2 separate regions of the Homo sapiens genome follow, and region 2 is linked to region 1. Evidence: fine-mapped expression QTL. A gene starts in region 1. The other region holds a variant in brackets. All regions are shown on one strand. Distances are from middle to middle.

Region 1 (9,992 bases):
AGGCTGGTCTCAAACTCCTGGCCTCAAGTGATCTGCCCATCTTGGCCTCCCAAAGTGCTGGGATTACAGATATGAACCACTACTCCCAGCCATGAGTCAAATTTTTAAAAGAATGCATTGTTTCTCAAGTCATGTCTCTTAATTAAAAAACGCACTTATGTGCTGGGTAAATGAGATATTATGTCTTCCAGGTTGAGAAATTATTATTATTTTTTTATTTTTATTTTTTTGAGACAGAGTCTCGCTCTGTTGCCAGGCAGATGGAGTGCAGTGGTGTGTTCTGGGCTCACTGCAACCTCTGTCTCCTGGATTCAAGTGATTCTCCTACCTCAGCCTCCTGAGTAGCTGAGACTACAGGTGCCCACCACCACACCCAGCTAATTTTTGTATTTTTAGTAGAGGTGGGGTTTCACCATGTTGACCAGGATGGTTTCTATCTCTTGACCTCATATCCACCCACCTTGGCCTCCCAAAGTGCTGGGATTACAGGTGTGAGCCACCATGCCCAGCTGACTGAAGGTTATTTTAACAGCTGATTAGGAAAAAAAAAGTGAGACTTCACATTAGGAAAAGTCCTCCCATCTACTGTCAGAACATGCCTGTGAAGGGTTTGAAATTTCTCTGAATTTTAGGTTCATAAACAATCAAAACAATCTTCAGCTCTGCCCAAAACAGGAAAACAGCTGGAACAATAAAAAGTAAAGGACCCTGTGATTCACAGAACCAAAGTGAATACAGCTGAAAGCAGACTGTGCCTTTAAGGTTGAGTTTATATTGAACACCTTGTTGAACAAGCAGGCAAAAATTTAGTCATCCAAACAGATCATGCTATTCTTAAGCCTTTGTTGGACTCTCATCTGCAGGCTGTGGTTCTAGGAATTTTGGTCAGAGTGGGCCGTGCTTGTTATTTTTCAACAGGTCAAGAAACAGTAGAAAAACAGCAGACTGTGAAAAAATACTTACAACAAAGGGTTAAGATCCTTAACATAAAAGAGCTCCTAAAAGACACCATGAAAAACAAAACAATTTGGCTACCAAAAAAAAAAAAAAAAATACAAGGCAAAAGATATCGTTATCCACACAATGGGTGGGCTTGGTCACTTGGTGGAGGACAACCACCCGCAGAGGATTTAGCAGGGAAATTTTACTACTTGCAAGGAGACCAGCGATAGCTCCCAAATCAGCACCTGCCCAAGCCAAGGGCCAGGTCAGGTTTTATAAGCAAAGGGTAATGACATGTGATCTGATTGGATATTGCAATGAGGTGATGCCTGGTGGCACAACCTGACTGGATCTTGCCATGGGGTGAGGCCAAAGCTCCATCCGATTGGATCCTGGATCCTGAATCCAGGCATGCAGTGTCCTCTTCTTAATTCAGTCCCTGGCTCTCAGTCTGAGCACTTAGGTTTGCCCTGTGGCTGCACACTTTGTTTACCTGGGTGTGCTCAGGCTATGTGAACTGAGGGTCCATGGCAACTGAACAACAACTCACAACTTTGTTACATAAAAGTCGAACCAGATTGGCCTGGTGTAGCTACCATAAGAGTAGGCAATTCAAAGAAGAATCATAAATGGCCAATAAGGATTTTAAAAAATTCTCAACCCTCCTGACGATCAGAAATATGCAAATCTGATAATAAGATACTCCCACTGATCAGATCAGCCAAAGTTAAAAGTATTCGCATTTGTGCACAACCTAGGGCACTGTGTGATCTGGGACCATTTGCATCAGAATCATCTAGTGGGCTTGTTTAAAGGCAGATTCCAATTGCCAAAACCTTGAAGGACCCAGATGTCCTTCAACTGGGTAACTGACAAACTGTGGTCCATCCATACCATGGAACACTACTCAGCACTAAAAAGGAACAAACCATTGATACAGACAATAACTCAGATGAATCTCATAGGCATTATTCTAAGTGAATGAAGCCAGGCTTGAATGTTACACACTGTATAATTCCAGACTTGAAAATAAAAAACCAATAGTGACAGAGAAAAGCCCTGTGTTTACCAAGGGAGTGAGGTGGGGTCAGGTGTGAGTAGAAATCGGTAGCTAAGGGAGCTTGTTGGGCTGGTGGAACTTTTCTGCATGCATTGTGGTGGTTACACAAATCCACTCCCTGTGCTAGAATTCATAAAACCCGCACACTCCACCACTGACCTCCACAAAGCCAAATTTACTGTGTAAAAAGTAAACAAACAAACACAACCCATATGAGTCCACCTCAGACCTAAACATCACAATCTCTAGGGAGGTGGGGCTGAGCTGATGGCTTTTCCTAACAAGCTCTCAGTGGTTCTCATGGACACTACGTTTTGAGGACCACTGGCTGGCATCACAATGGGGGTGAATGTGACTAGGAGGTTCTATCAAAACATAGAATGTGCCTACCCTCCACCCAGTGCTTGAACATCCCTTCCCCCTCATCACTCCGGGGAAGGATCCTGCTCAACACCCAACTACTCATTCAAACCTGGAACCCGAAACTTTAATGAAGGTTGCTCTACTGAGATTTTTCTCCCCACCGAACATGTCTGTGACCCACAAAGAAGCCCATGAAAGAAAGTGCCCAGAGAAACCAGAGCTGTGGAAGGCTGGCTCGACGGTGCCCCTCACTGCCCCTGAGAAAACAGACCCATTTCCTCTCTGCCCACCTCTTTCCCTGACATGTCCCCAGCAGCAGTCCTGTATTCCCAGTTCCTCTCAAGATGTTCTGAATAGTCTCTGGGTATCCTCTCATTGCCTTCAACTCAAGATATCTAAAACCAAAACTCATTGTCTTCCCACTCAAAACGTCCTCCCCTTTCTGCTGCCAACCCCAGTCAGTATTGTCTGCAGGCTTCCAGGCTTGGATCCTTGACTCACGGCCACCCAAGCTTCCTTCCCCCGTGTGCGATTAGTCAGTAAGTCTTAGTAGTGATGAGGGCTTCCTGCACCGTGACTGTCCGGCATGCTTTTTCCTCTCCCATTTCCTCAGCCACCAGCAATTCCAGGCCCCTCTTTACTTCGTATGTATTCTAGCGAGATCAACTGGCAAGACAAAGCTCAGACGTCACCTCCAGAAGGTTTTCATGGCTTGTGATAATCTGGCTTCACCTGTATTCTACTTCATGAGACAACTGACTATCTCGTGGCCTCTTCCCTGTGGCCTCCATCTCTCTTTGCAGCTCCAGTCCCTGGCACATGCTTGGCACACAGCTCACTGCAGCTGCTCAATGAGTTTTGTGGACTGGATGTTTGCTTGTGGGAAGTGGAAGCAGGGACCAGATGGATGGGCAGAAGGATTGTCCTATTCAAATATGCACTGGTGGTCCTGTCTTGTGTTTGGGCACCAGTTGAATCCAAGAGCTCTCAACCTGTGGAGTGTCGGATGAAATCTATGGAATCCCTCCTCAGAAAAGCAAATGAACCCACACAATGATGGCGCAGTTTCATTGTCATCAGCCTCCTGAGGCGTATCCACAATCACCAGGTCAGAAAACCCTGCTCCTTCCTTGCATTCAATTGGGCACATCACTATCAAATTAATTTTTCTGAAACACGACAAAATCTCATCAGAAATATACCACACTTTGTTGTCCCAAATGCTTGCCACCAGAAGTGTTTTGTATTTCAGATTTTTTGGATTTTGGAATCTTTGCATTATACTTACCAGTTTGGCATCCCTAATCCAAAACTCTGAAGTCAGATTAGCGATATTAAACCTGTACTAAGGAGAGCAATTCTGAATTTTTTGGCTTGGCAGCCACGGTTATTTTTGTGCCCCTCTAAATATACCTACTACCTACTATCCCCAGTGTGTAATCAGGCCATTGATGCCAGAGAGAGGTGTGAGTAGAATGATCACCAGTAGTGCCTGCCCTGAGAACGTGGCCACTGGTGCCCAGAGCAGAGTTGTCTGGGGACTGGCTGGAGGCCCATAGAGAGGCCCACACAAGAGCTCACCTGTGTTGACCAGCTCTCTTGCGTGCTCCAATTCCTATGCTGTTGCCTTGACTCAGCATGTGGTTCTCAGTGGGGTGATTCTTCCCTGCAGGTGACAAGTACTAATGTCTGCACACATTTACAACTAGGGAGGGAGTGCCACTGGCATTGAGTGGGTGGAGGCCAGGGATGCTGCTGAGCTTCCTGCATTGTACAGGACAGCCCCCACCACAAAGAACTTTCTGGCCCCAAGTGTGCATAGAAAAGATCCTGGTCTGCAGAGCCCTGTCCACCCATGGTCAATCCTGAAACTCTCCTTTGAGTCCCCCAGACTTTCCTGGGCCCTCCGGTCTTGCAGGATCTTCTCTTTCTTTCACACCTGTCCTTCCTGGGCAACATTTCTCCCCGACAAACCAGCGCCTGACCCTTGAGCAGGTCTCACCCAATCCTGCGCTTGTTTTAACCATATCCTTAGTTAGGTTCTAAGGTCATTGCGGGCAGGGAGGTTCATTTTCCTATAGGCCTGAGCACAAGGTCAGCGTGTGATAAATATGTGTTGACCCTCATAGATCCCTGAAGCACAGAATGAAAAATAAAATTGCTTAAATTTACTGATTTCAGGATATGGGAACAAAGGAATTGTGTTTAAATGTAAAAAAGAAGTTCTAGAATTTCCACAGAATTTACATTCTTCTTGTTGTAAGGAATATGCCTGGTAATGGAACTCAAATATCAGCTTGGATCGCCCTGGCCTTTGAAATTTGAGGTAAAATTAGGCTTAAGCCGTATCCAGCGCACAACAGAAACCTCAGTGTCTCCCACCCAGGGACTGTCTCGGAGGCTGTGTGTTCAGATGTCACTTCTGCCTCCCGGCATCTGCTCCTGAGTTTTCACTCTTCAGCCTCCCCTCCCAAGGCCTCCTTCCTACCCTGGCACTGGGCTTCTTGCCCCGTCCCCCTAGAATCCGTGGCACAGGGGCTTTATCTGTGTGGAGTCTCTACAGACGGTTAGAAACACAGAGTCAGCTAGAAATTAAGCAGTAGGCAGCTGTGATGTTTTTTGACAGCCTCATTTCTAAAACCCCTTCAGCAACCCCAGTCAAGGAGCTTCTCCCTCTAGACTCCAGCCTCCTGCTGAGTCACCTGCACCGTCTCTGCCTTCCTCCCCTTCCTCACATCCTCCCTGGCCCCATCTTCCAATTCCTCTGAACTTCTGCAGAGCAGCCAGCTCTTCCTCCAGCTTCAACTTCCCCACCCCAAGCAGGTGGGGCATCCTGACCCTGAGCAAAAGCAGTTCTCTCCCTAAGAAACACCGGTGACTTTTGTTCATGGCACTCCATGGATGCAAAGCTCTGAGTTCTGTTGAACAGGGACTCACCTACGAGTGGTGGTGCTATCAGCTGAGACGGGAAGCAGCACTCAGTAGAAGAAGAAAAGGCCTGGACTGGTGTGGGCATGCACTGGCTCGTGAGAAGCAGGGAAGGTCGCTCTTATGGGTCCCGTTTCTAAGTGACGTTCACGGCCTGGCTGTGTGTTGTCCAAGTGTTTTTCTTTCTTACCAAACCTTGGAGGTCTGGGAGCACCATATATGTCACACATGTGGGCAGGACTGGCCGTCGGGGCCGATGGGAGCTGCCTGGCGCACAAGTCCCTGGGGATGCCCATAAGTGCCTCACGTTGGCACTGAAGAAATGCAGACAGTGTGCCGCTTTGGGGAAGGCTTGTTGTTGCTGACTTTACACACACACACATATATATATACATACACACACACATATATACACATATATATGTATGTATACAGAGTGCTATAAAGTTATTCTTATTTTGTGAGTGATACAACCTTATTATTTAAAAATTAGGAAGAAAGTTAAAAAGAGGGTAAAACTCATATCTCTTCATGAGAAATGATCACTGTGACTATTTCAGCATACTTCCTCTGGCTCTGAGAAGAATCTTTAGGAAATAAGGAGCTTTTCATCTCCAGGGAGATGCCAGGGTCAGTTTCACCCCAAGGCAAAACCCTTCTCATTTTATGGGGCCAGATGCTGAAGATCAGAAACAGTTCGATCCTGCCCCGAGAAGGTGTCCGCCTCATCCTTGGAGTTAATGTGGCCACTTCCTAGGCAACTCAGAGGCTTTATGGGTCCTTTCGCCTCTTAAAATTAATTGAGTTATTCAGTAAATACAGGTTAAGCATCCCTAATCCAAAAATACAAAATGCTCCAAAACTGTTTTAGTACCAAAACGACCCTTAAAGAAGGCACTCACTGGAGCGTTTTGGATGTTGGATATCAGATTAGGGATGCTCAGCCAGAATGAATTCTGCAAATATTCCAAAATCAAAAAAAATTTGAAATCTGAAACACTTCTGGTTCCAAGTATTTCAAATAAGGGACACTCAACCTGCACTTAGTGAGTGATGCCAGGGAGTGGTACCAGTCACTGTTCTAGGCACTGAGGGTGCGTTGGAGACAAAGTGACAGCAACGTCCATGCTTCTTCCTCGCAGAGGACAGAGCCATGAGGAGGGAGAGTCTCTTCACTTCTCTGGGCCTTAGTTTCCTCCCCAGGCAAATAAACTGAGGAGGCTGTACCCAAATAAACATCGTCAGAGCTTAGGGGAATCATGTGGAGTGCCTGTTTGTCTTAAACACAAGCATTTCTTTAAGGTTCCTTAAAAAAAAAAAAGAAAAGAAAAGCTAAAAATGTTAATGACCTCTGCATTTTATTTTCTGGTATGTCCAGGTTTTTTGTTTTTGTTTTTAGACAGAGTTTTGTTCTGTCGCTCAGGCTGGACAGATCACGCAGTGGCATGATTTTGGCTCACTGCAACCTCCACCTCCCGGATTAAGTGATTCTCCTGCCTCAGCCTCCTGAGTACCTGAGATTACAGGCACCCACCATCACAGTCAGCTAATTTTTGTATTTTCAGTAGAGATGGGGTTTCACCATGTTGCCCAGGCTGGTCTTGAACTCCTGACCTCAAATGATCTACCCGCCTCAGCATCCCAAAGTGCTGGGATTACAGGCATGAGCCACTGCTCCTGGCCATATGTCCAGGTATTTTTAAATATAAAAACAAAATTTGGCCAGGTGCAGTGGCTCATGCTTGTAATCTCAGCACTTTGTGAGGCTAAGGTAGGCAGATCACCTGAGGCCAGGAGTTCGAGACCAGCCTGGGCAACATGGTGAAACCCCGTCTCTACTGAAAATACAAAAATTAGCCAGGCCTGATGGCCCATGCTTTTAATCCCAGCTACTCGGGAGGCTGAGGCAGGAGAATCACTTGAACCCAGTAGGCGGAGGTTGCAGTGAGCCGAGATCACACCACTGCACTCCAGCCTGGGCAACAGAACAAGACTTCATCTCAAAAAACAAACAAACAAACAAACAAAATAAACCCCACAAAATTTAAAATTCTTTGTAGAGTAGAAATGATGCTCTGGGAAAATACCCCCTGGGCAGGTGGTGGCTGCACATCCACTCTGGGAAAGACTCTTCAGCTCGAAGATGGAGACCCTCTTTTCCTGCTCTCACACAACATGGGGATAACGTTGACGCGTTCTTGGTAGGCAGTGCAGTAGGCAACATATCCAGACGCTGGGTGCCAGTGGTAGGCAGGAGAAACCACCGAGTGGGAGCAGATTTTCAGAAAAGGGAAACTAGAAAAAAACTTCCCAGCTGTGTCTCAGACAGGCCCTGTGGTCTGAGCTCCCATCCTTGACAAATGAGATTACTGAATGCGTGTTTAGCAGTTCCAAACGCTATTCATGATCCGACGTGACCCTCTAGTCTCTCAGACAGAGCGCAGCCCTGTTGCACAGGTGTGGAAATGGAAGCAAACAGGGAAGGTAACTTGCTGAAGGTCACACAAGCAGGACCTCGAACCATGGCCCCTAACACCGATCGGGCACTTCTTCCCCTGTTCTGTTTCTCCTCTCTGGGACCTAAAATCCCTAAAAATTCCCTAAAAGTGGAGGTGTGCTGGAAGAGTCACAGATGGCTCTGTTTTGTTTATCAGGAAATTGAGCAAGGTGCCTAACGGAAACCAAAAGGGCACCGGGGCACGTACACATGCCCTGACTTTGTTTCTCTCTTTGGCTGGTGTAACTGCTGCTACATGGACAGCGGAGCACACTGATGACTTCACAAGACTGATGCTGAGCGCCCCTCCTTGCGGCAGATCCTGCACCTCCTTCTTCTCCACACTCACTTGCAGGCATAGGTTGCTGCCTGGCTGGTTCCATGTCACCGGGTCTCTACCCTGAGCCCGTTGCAACACAGTCAGGGCTCCCAGGGTAAACTATGCTGGGAGTCCCCTAGGAAGAAGAAAGGGGAAGGGCTGAATTCTAAAGAAAGCCCAAGACCTCTTCATGAAGCACCTCTCTTTCTCTGCTTTAGAGATTGCCCCAGGGCTGCTGGGGCCGAGCACCAGCTCCCCATCAAGGCCCTGGAGAGGCGCTGGCAGCTTTCTGTCTTCTCTGCAGACCTTTGGTTCCTCCTGCCCCTCGTCCTTGGCAGAAGGAGCCTCAGTTTCCCAGTCTGTAAGGTGCCAATAATCATAAGCTACCTCAATGGTGTTTTCCTTTGAATTTTGAGAATTTTGAGAATGGAAACTTGACTATCTTCATCTCTCTTCCTATACCCCCCATTGACACGTGAATCAGCGTTTCTCAGAATACTGCAGGTTTGGAGTGTGTGTGGCGGAGGAGGGCGGAGCAGCGTGGAAGGTGGAGAGGTGGGCGGTGTCGGGGATATCAGCAGGGCAGTGGGCATTGGAGGGGTGCCCTTGGCCTCAGCCACAGGGCCGTTCCAGAGCCCTGCGTGGGCGAGGCCAGGGCGGCGCGTGATGGTGCCCTCCGAGAAGCACTGGGACCAGCAGGAAAGGCTGCCTGCCGGTGCGCAGGAAAAGGGAAGAGAGCCGGGGAATTGCTTTTTGACCCGTAAGGGAGCGTTTCTTGGTGGATGGGGAAATCAAAAAATTGACTACGGTGTAGTCAGCTACATCGTGTACCAATTTTCAAATACCGGTGAGATCAGTAAAAAGAGAAAGGGAAGGAGATCACAGATAGCATGAAACCAAGCCATCAATAATGAAAGTACCACTGGTTACTGAGCAGCGTCTGCTTCTAACTGACTTTGCTGGGGGAGGGGCGGGACAGGTACAAGCAAAAACAGCAACGACAGCGCAGCAGTTGCTTCATGTGAGTAATAATTGAATGGTACGAGGCTCTTCCACATTCATGTATTGAAGGCCCAAGTGCGGCCAAGGTCTCCCTGGTTCCTGAGGTTTGTTTCATGCTGGGTTCCTTATACTCCAGATGTCGGGAGGGACCCTCAGGGGCCGAGGTGCCCACACCTGTGCTCCCTGCATGACAGACTTCCTGGGGTCTTGGCTCCCAGTCTGTCCTCATCCTCTACACACACCCAAATGTGGAAGTCACCCCCAGCTTGAGTGAATCCCACACCCTCAGACCATTGGCCATGATATTACGTGTGTTGCAAAATATCAAGGATTCAGCTGAGAGGCTCTCGCAGTGGACGGCTCAGAGGCCGAGTCACACACTGCCCAGGCTTTCCCTGGGGGGCCCTGGCCCGGGGGCCCCCTGCCTTAAGATGCCCTTCCTCTCCTCCCTCAGTCTCCCACTGTCTTCAACTCGGGCCCTCACTCTGCTTATCATAGACCCCAAAATGCCTCTGCTCAAACAAATGGCTTGACCTGTTAGCGATATAGAAAAGTGAGCGGATCCTTTGAACATGTTCGTTTCTCCTTTTCTCCACCCACCCTGCGCCGTTTCCCATTTCTCTAAGTGCCTGGAATGTGTGGAGAGTCTCCTGATGATATGATGCCAGCTGTGCCCAGCTCCCTGGAACACAACATAGGGAATTAACCAGTGTGTTCCTCTTTCCTCCGTTAGTGAAAATGAGTACTATTTAATAATGCAGTGACACAGGATTTGTTGCTGTTGCAGCACTTGCATGGCCATGCTCACCTTCACACCACGCGGAGGCCAAAGGCATTGTTCCCTCAGCTGCGGCCCTCTCCCCTCAGCAGCCCTGGCCATT
Region 2 (9,992 bases), 57 kb before region 1:
GCCCTGCTGCTGCCCACCTGAGCTGCTCATTCCCAGCACATGGCCAGTGAGGACACAGCGAGTGACGAGGAGCACACGGTCATCCATGAGGAGGAGGGGGTGATGATGTCATTGCTGATGATGGCTTTAGCACCACCGACACCGATCTCAAGTTCAAGGAGTGGGTGACCGACTGAGAGTGGGGACAGCTCTGGGGAGGAGCCAGAGGGCAACAAGGGCTTTGGTGGGAAGGTATTTGCACCTGTCATTCCTTCCTCCTTTACTCCTGCCGCCCCTTGCTGGATCCTGAGCCCCCAGCGTCCCCCGATCCACCTGCAGCTTTTGGCAGTCTATGGTCACACCCTGTCCTCCTCCTACACATACTCGGATGCTTCCTCCTCAACCTTGGCGCCCACCTCCTTCTTACTGGGCCCAGGAGCCTTCAAAGCCCAGGAGTCTGGTCAACGCAGCAGAGCGGGCCCCCTACGGCCCCAACCCCTGGGGATGGGGGCCCAGGGACGCCTTCCAAGGTGGCCTGTTTCCTCCCAATGGATCCTGCCACCTTCTGGTGCAAGAGACCTGAAAGTGTGGGCGACCTGGAGCTACCAGGCTCCTCAGTCATCAGGGTCCCTCCCAACACTAAGGCTTTCCTAGGCAGGAGCTGGGCTGAGCCACCCGGGGAGCAGAGCCTGAAGAGAAACTGACTGGGCTTTAGGGGTCGGGGCAGAGGGAACCCCACGGACATGGATCCCACACTGGAGGACCCCACCACGCCCAAATGCAAGATGAGAAGATGTTCCAGCTGCAGTCCAAAGCCCAACACCCCCAAGTGTGCCATGTGTGATGGGGACAGCTTCCCCTTTGCCTGTACAGGTGGAGAAGCCGAGGACAGGCTCAGGGAACCGGAGACCGAGAAGGAGCTGTCCTCTTCACTGCACGTGCCCTGGACCAGTGCCGGCCCTGATCATGCAGCTCTTCCAGGCCCACTGCTTCTTCCTGTCCACTAGGCCACAGCCGCCCTCCAGGCCCACTATGCACACATCTTCCCCTCCAAGGTTTGTTCTGCCCCTGCCCTGACTCCCAGCCCTGTGGGGGTCCTGACCGCACCTCACCTGGCTCAGACTCTTGACGCTGCCCTGGCTGCCCCACCACTGCCTCTGCCCGAGAGTCACGTGAGGCTGAGAGTAGGGGCAGGGGCAGCAGTGGTGCCAGTTGGGGGGCGGTCCAGTGGGAGGAGCCTCAGCCTCGCGGGCTGCTCCGTGGGACTGATGACTGCATGATCTTCTGGGCACCTCACGGATCTTCAACTGCAGGTGAAACGGATGCTGGTGGTGGGTGCAGGGCCGCTGGGAGCTGCTGCATGGTTCCCAGAGGCTGGACTGGGGCAGGTGCCAACTGAAGCTGCTGGGTCAGCATGGGCAGGATGTTCTGCACACAAACCTTGGAGAAGAAGATGTGTGCATAGCGGGTCCACTGCTGCTGCCCCTGCCCTGACTCCCAGCCCTGCCTGACCCCACCTCAACCTGCTCAGGCTCTGGCACAAACCTGGCTGCCCTGCCACTGCCTCTGCCCCAGAGTTGGGGCCTTGACAGCCTGGTTGGAAGGGGACACCCCAGCCCTGCCTCAACACCTGGGGGTCTCCATAACTACCACAGGCAGGTGGGCAACCCCAAAGATCCCAGGACTCACAGTACCCCCTGAGAACATGGACAGTATGTGGGGGTAGCAATGGAGGGCAGGATGGTTATCTTCTCCCAGGTGAAGCCATTTAATCCTTTCAGTTTGGGACGGAGTAAGGCCTTCCTCTTTTTTTTTTTTTTTTTTTTTTTGAGACCGAGTCTTGCTCTGTCGCCCAGGCTGGAGTGCAGTGGTGCGATCTTGGCTCACTGCAACCTCTTCCCGCCGGGTTCACGCCATTCTCCTGCCTCAGCCTTCCGGGTAGCTAGGATTACAGGTAGACGCTACCACGTCCGGCTAATTTTTGTATTTTTAGTACAGACGGGGCTTCATCATCTTGGCCAGGCTGATTTCGATCTCCTGACGTCGTGATCTGCCTGCCTCCCCCTCCCAAAGTGCTGGGATTACAGGCGTGAGCCACCACGCCTGGCCAAGGCCTGCTCCTCTTATCTATACCCCCTAACCCTGCAGCTGTGCCGGGGGAAAGCTGGGCAATTTCCCTCCTCCGAGCCCCTGTACATACCATGAATTGTGGGACCTTCAGAGCTTTTCACTTTTCGGAAAATAGCTCCTGCTGGGGCTACAAGATGGAGTGTGAAGAGGGCCTTGGGCCACAGGGAGGCGCCTGTGGACTAGGGGGAGTTCATGCACCCCTTCTTTCCCCAGAGGGGCTGGACTCAGGTGAGTATGGGGGTGGGGGCTCCTGCACTTCGACACAGGCAGCGGGAGGGTTTTCTCCCCATTCCCTCTGCACTCCCAACTTGAGCTATACTTTTTAAGAAAGTGATTCACCCTGCCTTTGCCCCCTTCCCCAGAACAGAACACGTTGATCATGGGCGATATTTTTCATTGTGCCAAAAAGTTGCCATGACCGTCATTAAACCTGTTTAACACCAAATAATAAGGAAAATAAAATAAAAAATTCGGGCATGGGCAGAAACTCACTCCAAATAAATTACCTACCAAAATATATAATGGTGGAAATATTCCAAAATTCAATATTTTGGGATTTATACACAAAAGATAAACAAATTAGAGGCCAAGAGGCTGCCGGAAGGGAAAAACGGGGCCTGGAATGGCCGACGTGAGGAATGAGCTGGGCCTAAAGAGGCCACTGGCAGGCAGGAGCTGGACCTGCCGAAGTGGCCGAAAGGCAGGAGCTTTGGACTGGGGAGGCCTCAGTGAGGCGAGAGCTAGCTGGGCGTGGAGAGTCCGCTGTGAGGCCAAGGCCGAGGCCAGGCCCGTGCAGGCCTTCGAGAGGCAGGAGGCCGGGCCTGCAAAGGCCGACTGGAGATCAAGTTCTGCGCCTGAAGAGGCTGCCAAAAGTCAAAAGCGGGGCCTGGGAAGGCCGCCGAGAGCCATGAGCTGGGCTGGGCCGAAAGAGGCCACTGGGAGGCAGGAGGAGCTGGGCCCGGAGAGGCTGCCAAAAGGCAGGAGCTTCGCCTGAGGATGCCACAGTGAGACACCATCTGGGTCTGGAGGGTCCACTGTGAGGCAGAGGCTGGCCTGTAGAGTCCGACAGTAGACAGAAGTTGGGCAAAAGGCTGATTTGAGGAAGTTTTGGGCTTCAACAGTCAGCCACGAGGCAGACACTAGGCCTGGAAATAGCCCGACAGTCATGAGTTGGGCCTAAATGGGCCACTATGAGGGAGGAGCTGTGCCTGTTGAGGCTCCTCCAAAAGGTCATCTGTACACACACAGTAAAAATCTGGGAGTAACTGAAGACAGAGTTGGTAAGTAAAATAAGAAACAGTTATAAGAAATTAAACTATGGTATCCATAGGCACCCGGTAAAAGGTCAGTTGATGTTAGCTGCTACTTTTTTGTTGTTTAGAGACAGGGTCTCACTCTGTCACCCAGGCTGGAGTGCAGAGGCCTGATCATGACTCACTGCAGTCTCAGCCTCCCTGGGCTCAAGTGATCCTCCCACCTCAGCCTCCCAAGTAGCTGGGACTACAGGAACATGCCACCACACTAGGCTAATTCATGTATTTTTCTATAGGGATGGTGACTCCCTTTGTTTCCAAGGCCTATCGCAAACTCTTGGCCTCAAGCCATCCTCCTGCCTCAGCCTCCCAAAGTGTTGCGATTACCAGTGTGAGCCACCACACCTGGCCAGCTGCTACTTTTATCAATATTATTATTATTCCACTCAATTAAAAATTATTATTTTCAAGGCTATGCAACAGTATGTATCCTACAGCGTAATTGTAAAAACATATACAGTCGTCATCCCTCAGTATACAGAATTAGTTCCAGCCCCCCATCTCTGCATATACCAAAATCCATGCTTACTCACGTTTCGCTGTCACCCCTCTAGAATCCACGTATACGAAAATTCCAAATGTTAGTTGGGCATAGTGGCAAGCACCTGTAGTCTCAGCCACGTAGGAGATTGAGATGGGAGGATCGCTTCAGCCTGGAAGGTTGAGGCTGCAGTCAGCTGTGATAGCACTACCACACTCCAGCCTTGGACAAAAGAGGGAGACCCTGTCTCAGAAAAAAAACAAAATAAAACAGGTTAGAAATTGTAATCTAACCCTAAGCCTAACCCTAACCCTAACCACTAAGCCTAACCCCTAACCCCTACACTAACCCTAACGGTAACCCCTAACCCTAACCCCTAACTCCAAACCCTAACCCTAACCCCAAAACCTAACCCTAACCCTAACCCCAAACCCAACCCCAACCCGAACCCCGAACCTGAACCCTAACCCTAACCCCTAACCCTAACTCCTAACCCTAACCCCTAACCCTAACCCTAACCAATAACCCTAACCCTAACCCTAACCCTAACCCTAACCCTAAACCCTAACCCTAACCCTAACCCTAACCCCTAATCCTAACCCTAACCCTACCCTAACCCCTAACCCTAACCCTAACCCTGATTATTCAGGGCTGCAAACAGAAAGGATTTTGTTCACCGTCGATGCTGCCCTGAGTTGTCCCAAAGCGAGGCCGTGCCCCCAAGGTGTGTGCTGAGAAAGCTGCTCCGCGTTTTTGGTGTCCCCCGGGTCTGTGTTAAGCAGAACGCAGCTCTGCCCCCGCAAAGGCACCCCGCGCCGGCGCGGGCACGCACAGACTGACGCGACGTGCGCGCGGGAGGCGCGGTGGATGCGCAGAGAGCACGCCGCCGGGCGGGGGTTGGGGTGGCGTGGTGCAGGAGCACAGTCGCACGCCCCTGTGCTGGGGGTGGGGCGCGGTGCAGGCGCGGAGACGGGTGGAACCTCAGTAATTCGAAAAGCCGGGCTCGACCGCCCCCTGCTTGCAGCTGGGCACTACAGGACCCGCTTGGTCACGGTGCTGTGCCAGTGCGCCCCCTGCTGGCGACTAGGGCAGCTGCAGGGCTCTGTTGCTTATAGTGGTGGCCAGCGCCCCCTGCTGGCGCCGGGGCAATGCAGGGCCCT[C/CA]TTGCTCACAGTATAGCGGCTGCACGCCGCCTGGTGGCAGCTAGGGACATTGCAGGGTCCTCTTGCTCACAGTGTGGTGGCAGCACACCCCCCTGCTGGCAGCTGGGGACACTGCCGGGCCCTCTTGCTTGCAGTGCAGTGGGGGCACGCCCTCTTCTGGCCCCTGGGGGCACTACAGGAACCTCTCGCTCACAGTGTAGTGGCAGCACGCCCCCTGTTGGCAACCAGGGCACTGCGGGGTCCTCTTGCTCATGGTGTGGTGCCCGTATGACACCTGCTGGCAGCTAAGGACACTGCAGGGCCCTGTTGCTCACAGTGTAGTCGTCGTACGCCACCTGCTGGCAGCTGGAGACACTGCCTGGCCCTCTTGGTGGCAGTGTCGAGGCAGCACGCCACCTGCAGGCAGATGGGGACTAGGCAGGGCTCTCTTGCTCCCAGTGTGACGGTTGGCGTCCCCTACTGGCTGCCTCCTGCACCACTTAAAGTCAGAGCATCAGTTTTTAAGCCCCATCAGTTCTGTAAATTCAACTGAAACGGAGCTAGTACTAGGGAGAGCTGATGTCCCAGTTCTTGTCTAACTTGGAAGAAAGATTTTCACCAAGAGGCAGTACAAAAATGGGAGACAACTTCATTGAAAAGAAATACAGTGTAAAGAGCTCATTGTAGAAAAATAGGGAGGAGTGGGCTGATCGTGCATGAAAACATCCTAGGAGTCCTGTGCAGGGAATTTTATTTTGGACTTCTTCACATTCCTGCCTCTGTCTCAAGTCTCCACCTGTTCTCTTTGTCTGGTTTTCCTGCTACTGCCTTAGGTCCCCGACTTGCCACACTTAGGCTTGTGGGACCTCCTCACTGTTGGTTGAGGTACATGTGTGGTGATCAATCCGAATCCACTCTGGCACCAGCCTCCTTCCCGCCATCCCAGGCAGGCTGACAGCGGTCACGTTTGTACCCAGTGTGCCTGCCTATCTCTTTTGAATGTCCTTCTTTGCCCTAATCTGCACTTAGGGTGCCAGGTTTCTCTTAAGAATGTCCCCTTTGTCCTTCTTATCAGCATGTAGCTACCAATATTCTGACATTTTTATTGCAGAGTGAATGATGGTTGGGGCATCTTAAAGAGAGTTCTAGGGTTTTTCTTTCTGCATAGGTACCTCTTCGCACTCCTACCCACAACTGACAAGTGCCCATCCACTCCAGCACTAGAGATGCTACTAATATGTGCATTTTTGGTGGTCCCTCCAGGTGAGCCTTCTCAGACTTTCCCTTTTCCAGGAGCTCCCCCTCCTGTTCATGTCTAGCTATCTATCTCCTCTAACAGAGCCCACTATCCTGTGTGTTTCCCAAAAATAGTGATGGAAGGATTAATTGGAAACCATAGGAAATGATATGCATGTAGATGAAAACTTTACAACTTACACAAATAATCACTCAAAATCATCCTTACACTAAAAATGCAAAACTATACCATTTCTAGAAGAATCTATAGAAGAAAAGCTATGTGCCTTTGGGTTTGGTAATGAATTTTAACAAATGACACAAAAGGTTGATATACACAGAAGAAATGACAATGTGGATTTCTTAATATTTAAAGTTTATACTCTGGAGAAGACCTTGTTAAGATAACAAAAAGACAAGCCACATATTGAAGAAAATATTTGCAAAATACAGATCTGAGAATTTGTATTCAAAATATATTTAAAAATTCTTAAAACTAAACAATAAGTTAAACAGCCCAATTAAAAAGGCACACAGATCTCAACAGACATCTTACCAAGGAAGATCTACAGATGGCAGGTAAACATACAAAAACATGCTCAACATGCTAGAGAACTGAAAACCACAATGAGATAGCACAGCTGGTCTGCATCTCTTAGAACTGCTAAACTCTTTAAAAAATGACAAATTGCTGGAGGAAAAACAAGAACTCTTTTCATTGCCGGTGGAACACAGTGTATAAGACCAAAATATGCCACCCCAAAATATAATGGTAGGAAACCAGAATATGCCACCCCAAAATATGTCCCTTTTGCTTAAGAATTATTCCAAGCTGATTATTTTGAAAAAAAAAAATGCTAACAAAGGAAGTTCTGAAAACAGAGTAGAAGTTACCCTTGTGTAAGGGAAATTTACATCTATAAAGGAAATCCCCATTCAAAAGCTACCTCTCTCAACACCAAGAAGAGAAGGATAACTAAATCACTAAAGAGTCTTATCAATGGAGACTGCATGGACTTAAGTCTGTATAACAAACCTTACCCTTGTCTACTGTGCTTTTGCTGGCTAACTCCCCACTACTGCACCTCAAATCTTCTTTCTTTAAGTTCAACATAGTATTTATGCTTGAATTGAAAGCCACCTGTTGGAGATTTACTCATTTTGCCCTGAGTATCTCCCATGTATCCATAAGGTATACATGTTTTTAAACTTTTCTGTTTTTCTCATTTTAATCTGTCAGTTTTTACAGAGGGTCCCATCTCAGAATTCCAAAAACATAGAAAATTATTTTTCCTCCCCTATTACAAGTTGGGCACTTTTTTCCAAAGCTAAACAAGTTTCACCTTACAATCCAAAAATCACATTCCTAAGTATTTTGACAACTACTTTGATGCTATTTCCAAACAAAAGCTACCATGCAATTATTTACAGAAGCCTTATTCATAATGAACAAAGGAAAAAAAAGGAATCAGAAAGTCTTACAATAGATGACTGTGTGGGAATCCACTCAGACATCAAAAGTTGTTATAAAGATTATTTAAATGAAAGCATTTGAGATACTGAAGATAAAGGAAGAAATCTTAGCAGAACTTACTTTATCCAGTTAAAGCAGAGCTCCCAGAAAAATACAGCTGCCATTAACCCCATCCAAGGAGTTTCTTGCAAATTCAGCTGCCATGAAGACAGCGTACTCTTTCCCATTAGCAATGATAAATGAAAATGAAATCCTAAGCTCCCAACTGACTGAACAGACCCACTCTTGGCTGAGGGGACCCAAGAGTAAATTTCAAAACTGAGTTCTCAGCTTTGCTAGCATTTGAGATTGTGATGGTTGAATAAACTAATTAAGAGCCCAAAATGAAGGCTTGGAATAAATAACTGAGGGTGTCTAATATCCCAGTTTTTCATCCTAGAATGGGCAGAGTCCTTGACCCCATTCTAGGGAGACTTCCAAAAGAAAAAAGACCTGCATTTCTTCAACAACCCACATTGAGAGACTTTCTTGCACTTTTGACCTGTGGCTAACACTCCTCACCTTTCATTCTGTCATCAGTGTTTTGGGGAAACACCTTTAACTCTCTATGATTCACAGGTTATTAAGTGGTCCTTATAATTCCCTCCAGAGATGCAAAAGACTAATGATGGTGTCTGAGCTCACAGCAGCAAGCAGGCGTGTGTGCACAGCAGCCACGTGGCTCATCTGCTAGGAGCTTACTAAATACGATGTTCTACAACATTGTTTAACGCAAGGGGAGACGCTCCTACTCAGAGGGTTTAATTGCTCACCTACTTCTTTTTCTGCCTTCTTGGGCTCCTAAAATGAAAAAAAACCCTGGAGTGATAAAGTGAATCAAAGGGGTACCAGCTGCATCACAGCAAAATAGATTCCTAAAAAATCCCTGGCCTAAGATGACAGCCTTGGCTGGATAAGCTTGAATGTGCTGATAGTGGACATGGTAGAATGAAGGTGGTTGAAATGTTCATATTAAAGAACTTCCACCCAGATTGCAAGAAAAGAGAGAGGAATGGAGATGGCAGCACAAGCCCCTACAATAAAAGCAGATGTTTTGAGATCAGTTATATTTGTCCTGAAAAAAATAAAAACAGAAACCAAAGTTTAGCCTGAGGCTACAATTAATTGGGCAATAAGCCAGAGGCATATATGGCATAGACAGACTTAAACATTTCTCCCTTGTATTAATACAAATACTAAAATTACAAATAAACTGATTCCAAATAAAACAAATACTTTAAAAATTTAATGAATAAACACTGGAGTCTACAGTAGCATTTGAAGGAGATCTCACAAACAGGTTTGGTTTCTGAAGGTTAGAACTGATGGTCTAGAGAATTCATTTCATTCCAGAGACAGAAAGAGAGGAATTTCTTAGGCTCCTTCAGGAATGCGTCTGGCTTTGCATCATCTTTGTATGTTTGAACTATGCATATGGCGTAAGAAAACAGGATTTCACAGATTTAAGGTGCGAAAAGTCACTGGGTTCTCTTAAGAAGTCTGGGATTATTCTGCTGGAAAAATAAGTTTGTTGAGAAAAAATGAGTTGGAGGAGGCTGTTATTGAAGTGAAGCAGAATTGTTTTTACTAATCTGCTTATTACCCACTCTGTAGTGTGGAAACAAATTATTCATGCACAAGGTCCTCTCACTGTTCCTGGAATGCAGTGGAAAGAGAACAGATTAGTTTTTCCTCCTTCAGAACACAACCACTAGAAACATCCTACCTCAGATGAGATATTCCCTAATTATTTTCAAAAGACAGTGAAAAACGATGGATGTAAATGTTTGCTACAAAATAAATACATGGTAGAAACAGAAGCATCTGGGTCACAGCTATATTAGAGCTACCTGTGTTCCCCTGTCACTGAGATTAAAACAAAAATGTCCAATACAATCATTCACAGCATGGGAGAGGGGAAGTTGAAGGGTTAGGAAACGCCAGTCATAAAAGGATTTCAGAATTTCAGTCCATAAGGAAGTGGTTTTGTGCATTGTCTGTTCTTGTGTGCAAGGTGAAGTCTGGAGAACAGAAACGTGCAGTAACAAGGGCTCCTTTGTCCATATCACCTCTCTAGATATCAAGTTTCAGACATGTTGCATTTTAATTGAAAGGTTGATATAATTTTTTGAAAAAGAAAACTTGTGGTGTTTGAAGTGACAAAGACTGCTGTGACAAAAAAGCAGGGAAAGGGAATTTTT

The links.
Region 2: its variant is fine-mapped to the expression of LINC03066 in hippocampus (GTEx, PIP 0.98). The same link has a PIP of 0.9 or more in cerebellar hemisphere.

The regions. Positions count from the first base shown.
Region 1 is chr6:200,941-210,932 of GRCh38, forward strand. LINC03066 (long intergenic non-protein coding RNA 3066) reads right to left here and starts at 4,544. Exons shown (of 8, transcript NR_126020.1): 1 at 3,947-4,544. RefSeq lists enhancers at 8,271-8,320, 9,132-9,331.
Region 2 is chr6:143,445-153,436 of GRCh38, forward strand. It overlaps the pseudogene SEPTIN14P6 and the pseudogene CICP18. Among named protein-coding and RNA genes, the nearest start is that of LIRIL2R, 32 kb to the right of the region's middle. The variant C/CA (reference allele first, on the strand shown) is at 5,064.